2 separate regions of the Homo sapiens genome follow, and region 1 is linked to region 2. The links come from fine-mapping of genetic effects on gene expression. A gene starts in region 2. The other region holds a variant in brackets. All regions are shown on one strand. Distances are from middle to middle. Region 1 overlaps SLFN5 (schlafen family member 5). Region 2 holds the start of NLE1 (notchless homolog 1).

Region 1 (2,738 bases), 110 kb after region 2:
ACTTGCTTTACTGTAGTAGAAATTTTCTCTGCCTTTTTCAGTGCACCTTTAGACAAAGACAGTCAATACTTTTCTGCCTTTGCCTTGGGAAGGACAATGGTATAACTGGACAGTCATACTCCAGAGATTCATTGAAGCCCCTGTTTTTGTCCAGATGCTCAAGTAAGAGTTAAAAGATGGCTGGGCGCGGTGGCTCACGCCTGTAATCCCAGCACTTTGGGAGGCCGAGGCGGGCGGATCACGAGGTCAGATCAAGACCATCCTGGCTAAAACGGTGAAACCCGGTCTCTACTAAAAAAAAATATCAAAAATTAGCCAGGCGTGGTGGCGGGCGCCTGTAGTCCCAGCTACTCGGGAGGCTGAGGCAGGAGAATGGCGTGAACCCGGGAGGCGGAGCTTGCAGTGAGCCGAGGTCGCGCCACTGCACTCCAGCCTGGGCGACAGAGCAAGACTCATCTCAAAAAAAAAAAAAAAGAGTTAAAAGACATAAATTTCCCTTGTGACCTTGTGATTCAGTTCTGATACAATATAAAAATGATCTCCTACTTTGTTCAGAGAACAAGGAAGCCTGTTAAAAGGATTCCATTTTCTTGCTCTCAGCCTTAGTAGAGAAGGGACATAAAATTTTTAAGGCTAAATTACAATTTTACCAAAACACAATTCATTATTTGAAGTAAACCTCTCTAAGGAGGGATAAATATTCTCTCCTGATAAAGATTATCCGAAGTTATTGTAAATCCCTCACAAAATGACAGATGAGAGGATTTCTAGGTTAACTGGATATTGCAAACAATAGGTGCCAAAGTTTTCTGAAATTGGAGCACCTCTTTATGGATTGACTGTCTTCAGTGAGGGATTCTCTCCTTTGAAAGTCCAAACATAAAGACCTCCTGGAACCTGAAATCAGTTCTTCAACAGCCTCCTTCCCAAAGCACCCCAACTGTAGAAAGCCATTTTGTCTATTTGTGCGAGAGCGATGTAGAGAAGCCCTTGGGCCTTCAACTTCATGGAAACCATGAAAACCCCATTATTTGCTGTAGCCTCACTCTTGACCTGTTTAAAAGGCTTATTTCTATTGGTTTAGGGCATTAGCTGTCACTGCAAAACTTGA[T/C]GATGCTTCTGCCAAACTAGCTCTAGGCTCATTCCCCGCCTGACCTCATGGTTTCTCATGCAACACAAACATTACTAATTTGGGGTTTTTTTTTGTTTGTTTTTTTGTTTTTTGAGACGGAGTCTCGCTCTGTCACCCAGGCTGGAGTGCAGTGGCGCGATCTCGGCTCACTGCAAGCTCCGCCTCCCGGGTTCACGCCATTCTCCTGCCTCAACCTCCCGAGTAGCTGGGACTACAGGCACCCGCCACCACGCCAGGTTAATTTTTTGTATTTTTAGTAGAGACGGGGTTTCACCGTGTTAGCCAGGATGGTCTCAATCTCTGACCTCGTGATCTGCCAGCCTCGGCCTCCCAAAGTGCTGGGATTACAGGCATGAGCCATGGCGCCCGGACTTTTTTTTTTTTTTTTTTTTTTTTTTTAAAGACAGAGTCTTGTTCTGTCGCCCACGCTGGAGTGCAATGGCATGATTTCGGCTCACTGCAACTTCTGCCTCCTAGGTTCAAGCGATTCTCCTGCCTCAACCTCCCGAGTAGCTGGGATTACAGGCACACACCACCACGCCCTGCTAATTTTTGTAATTTTAGTAGAAACAGGGTTTCACCATGTTGGCCAGGCTGGTCTCAAACTCCTGCCCCCAGGTGATCCACCCATGAAAAAATCTGGTTGAATCTTTACTCTCATAATCTCTGGTGCTCTCAAAATGGCCACTTGCTGGCACCAAATTATTTAAAATGGATATTAGCTAAATTTCTCCATGAAATTACTCATTATAATATAGACAAATTGGTCACTATCTTAAATCCACATCCGTGGGAAAACTAAAAAGACAGCTGAGCGGTGGGGCATGGTGGCTCATACCTGTAATCCCAGCACTTTAAGAGGCTGAGGCAGGAGGATTGCTTGAGGTTATGAGTTTGAGACCAGCCTAGGCAATCTTGTAAGACCCTATCTGTACAAAAAATTTAAAAAATTAGCTGTGCATTGTGGCGCGTTCTTGTAGTCCTAGCTACTTGGGAGGCTAAGGCAGGAGGATAGCTTGAGCCTAAGAGTTCAAGGCTATAGTGAGCCATGACTGCACTCCAGCCTGGGTGACAGAGTGAAAAGCCCTGTCTCTAAAAAAACAAAAACCAAAAAGGACAGCTGAGGATATTTTCAGGTTATGTGTCGCCTGTCAACAACATAATCCTGGAAAAATTCTAATGTCATCTTTTGTTCCTCTATAGATAATGTGCCTTTTTCCTCTGGATGCTTTTAAGATTTTTTTCTGTATCACTGGTTTTGAACAATTTAATTATGATGTTCCTCAGTATTTTTTTTTTTCACATTTCTTGTGCTTAAGGTTTGTGTAACATCTTAGATTTTAGATCTTGATTTTTTCTAGTGTTCATCAAATTTTCTTCAAAAATGTTTTAGTTGTTTCAGACAGGAGAGTAGCCTAGTCCCTAGTACTTTATTCTGACTGGAAGTGAAAGTCTCATGAATGTAGTTTTGAAAATCATAGTTCCTTAGACACAGTAAGGAAACCAATGGCCTCAGCCTCTCCCACTTCTGCTTGCCAGGAGCCTCTTGTCTCTCGGGCTTTTTCTTCTGGCACGTGTTTCTGTATTTCTAAACAGCATGCTTATT
Region 2 (3,018 bases):
AAGTAATTAGTTCAATGTCCTATTGCCAATGATTAATTCAGGTTCTTTACGTCCAAGATAGGATTAGCATATAGCATTATGCAGTGTTTCCCAAACTACCACACTACACTATATTTGTGTAAAAAGCTCCCAAAACGCCTGTTAAAAAATGTAGACTTTCTGCTTCATCCCAGAGTTTGGTTTAGTAAGGCTGGGATGGGGTCCAGGAACTGCAATTTTAAGGACCTCCCCTGTCCCCAGGGCAGCTCTTCAGTAAACACACTGGCTTAAAGGTTAAAAGCAAAGGCCGGGTGCGGTGGCTCACGCCAGTAATCCCCAGCACTTTGGAGGCCAAGGCGGGAGGATCACGAGGTCAAGAGATCGAGACCATCCTGGCCAACGTGGTGAAACCCAGTCCCCACTAAAAATACAAAAATTAGCTGGGTGTGGTGGCGCGCGCCTGTAGTCCCAGCTACTCGGGAGGCTGAGGCAGGAGAATCGCTTGAACCTGGGAGGCAGAGATTGCAGTGAGCAGAGATCACGCCACTACACTCCAGCTTGCCAGCCTGGCGACAAAGTGAGACTCCGTCTCAAAAAAAAAAAAAAAAAAGGTAAATAAATAAATAAATAAAAGCATGGGTATTCGGATAGTTTTGGGTTCCAATTCCAAATCTGCTACCTACTACATAGCATCGTGCAAAATACTGAGTCCCTCCGGGCCACGCTGTAAAATGGGGATATTAACGTGTCCCAGACTGGGGGACTGTGACAAAGAATCAATGAAATACAGCATCCGGTGCGTTCAAAGCTAGGCCCCTCTCCGCAGGTGGACCCCTTTGGTTGGCGTGTAAAGCGCTATGCCACTGATTCCATCTCTGACATAGGTGGGAGCTCACGCCAGGTGGGTCACCACAGTCCGTTAGCGGGGGACCATGAACCGCAGACCCTCGGTAATATGATTCCCCCACCGCATCCGCCCGGGGGTGGAGATGCGAGGCCGCCCTGGCCAGCCACTTACCTGGGCCAGTAGCGCGTTGCACACGAGCTGCAGCCTGTCCGGGGTGATGTCCACGGGCACGTCGAACGGGGAACCCAGCAGCTGCCCGCCCTCATCCTGGAACTGCACTAGCAACCGCTGCACATCGCGCGCCACCGCCTCGTCCTGCGCGAGCAAGTGGGGCGGGAGTCAGTCTGGTCGCCCGCCCAGAAGGGCCCCACTTCGCCTCTCTCAGGCCTCAGGGACCCGGGCCCTAGCGCCCCGCGGCGACGCCCCCCGCCCCCATCCACGCACACCCACCGGCACTGCTGCCGCCATCCTGCGTCCCCACGTGGAGGAGAAAGAGCCCGGCAGACAGAGCGCCGTCTCCGTGGTCGGGCGGGGTCGCCGCCGGCCACATCGCCCTCTGCTGTTGGGGAGGAGAAGCGTCCCGCTGCGCACGGCCTCAGGGATTAGAAATGGGCTTACCTGGTGCTCCTCCCGCCCCTCAACAGCCTTCACATTTATTTTTCGCCAGGGTCTTAGAGGACACAGTAAACTTTTGACTCTTCACAACAGGGATTCTTGCCCCATTTTAATTTAATTTCATTTTGAGACAGAGTTTCACTCCGTCGCCCAGACTGGAGGGCAGTGGTGCCACCACGGCTCACTGCAGTCTCGAACTTTCTGGCACAGCGATCCTCCCACCTCAGCCTCAGAGTAGCCTGGACTACAGGCACATGACACCCTGCCCGGTTATTTTTTTCTCATTTTTTGTAGAGACGAGGTCTCACTATGTTGCCCAGGCTGGTCTCAAACTCCTGAACTCAAGCAGCAAGTCCCCCACTCCCCAGCCTCAGTGTCCCAAAGTGCTGGGATTACAGGTGTGAGCCACCACGCCTAGCCTAGAAATTAGTATCCTTTTAAAAATGGATCAAGTCAAGGCTGGGCGTGGTGGCTGACACCTGTAATCCCAGCGCTTTGGAAGGCCCAGGCGAGCAGATCACTTGAGTCCAGGAGTTCGAGACCAGCCTGGCCAACATGGTGAAACCAGGTCTCTACTAAAAATACAAAAAAATTAACCAGCCGTGGTGGCATGCGCCTGTGGTCATAGCTACTGGAGAGGCTGAGGTGGTAGATTCTCTTGAACCTGGGAGGCAGAGGTTGCAGTGAGCCGAGCTCTCACCACTGCACTCCAGCCTGGATGACAGAGCAAGACTCTGTCTCAATAAATAAATAAATAAATAAATAAATAAATAAATAAATAAATAAATAAAATGGATCAACTCAATAATACTCGAGTACAAAAGCAAATCATTTCTACAATCATCAATGCTGTAAAGCAATAATAGTGATAATGACATCAACAAGTCAGGAATTGTTCTAAGTGCTTTCCCACATAACTCATTTAATTCTTACAACCCTTTTCTCCCCATATTACTGAGGAACTGAAGCAGACAGCAATGAACTTGAGCTCTTTTGCCTGAAACGAAGGATCTCCCTTGCCAACTCTCCTCTCTCTCCCTCCACTGCTCAGGCAGTCTCAAGCTCTGCCAAGTCATCCTCATGAACACAGCTTGAATCTGCTCTCCCCATCTCCACTGCCTCACTCTGGTCAGAGTCACCATCATCACCTGCCTGGACCGCTACAACAGCCTCCCGATGAGCCCCCCCATTTCCATTCCTGCCTCTTTCTACCCATTCTCCACGATGCAGCCAGGGTTATCTTTTCAGACCAAAAATCTGGCCTGCTGCTCTTCACCCTCAAACCCTGCGACGGCTCCCTTACATGCAGGAAAAAAAGAACACTCCTTATAATGGTCAATTCAGCCTTGCTATGTCCAGCCACCCCTCTCTTTAGGTTAAATCTTGCTGGCTTTTTCTGAGTTCTTACAAGGCATGGCTCTTCCTGCATCAGTGATTTTGCCCATGCAGTTTTTTCTGTCTGGAACTGTTATGGAGTGAATTGTGCCCTTCCCCTAATTCAAGCTTGTCCAACCCCTGGGCCACAGGCTGCATGCAGCCCAGGATGGCTTTGAATGCAGCCCAACACAAATTCGTAA

What was found. PIP is the estimated chance that this variant, and not a neighbour inherited with it, causes the effect. A credible set is the group of variants that fine-mapping cannot tell apart.
Region 1: its variant is the best candidate, but not a certain one, in a credible set for the expression of NLE1 in lung (TOPMed, PIP 0.85).

Annotation. Positions count from the first base shown.
Region 1 is chr17:35,250,200-35,252,937 of GRCh38, forward strand. The region is part of intron 1 of SLFN5 (schlafen family member 5); the gene reads left to right. Among named protein-coding and RNA genes, the nearest start is that of SLFN5, 8.5 kb to the left of the region's middle. The variant T/C (reference allele first, on the strand shown) is at 1,112.
Region 2 is chr17:35,140,982-35,143,999 of GRCh38, forward strand. It overlaps NLE1 (notchless homolog 1), which reads right to left and starts at 1,322. Exons shown (of 13, transcript NM_018096.5): 1 at 1,277-1,322; 2 at 998-1,141. The coding sequence starts at 1,294. RefSeq lists an enhancer at 753-1,630.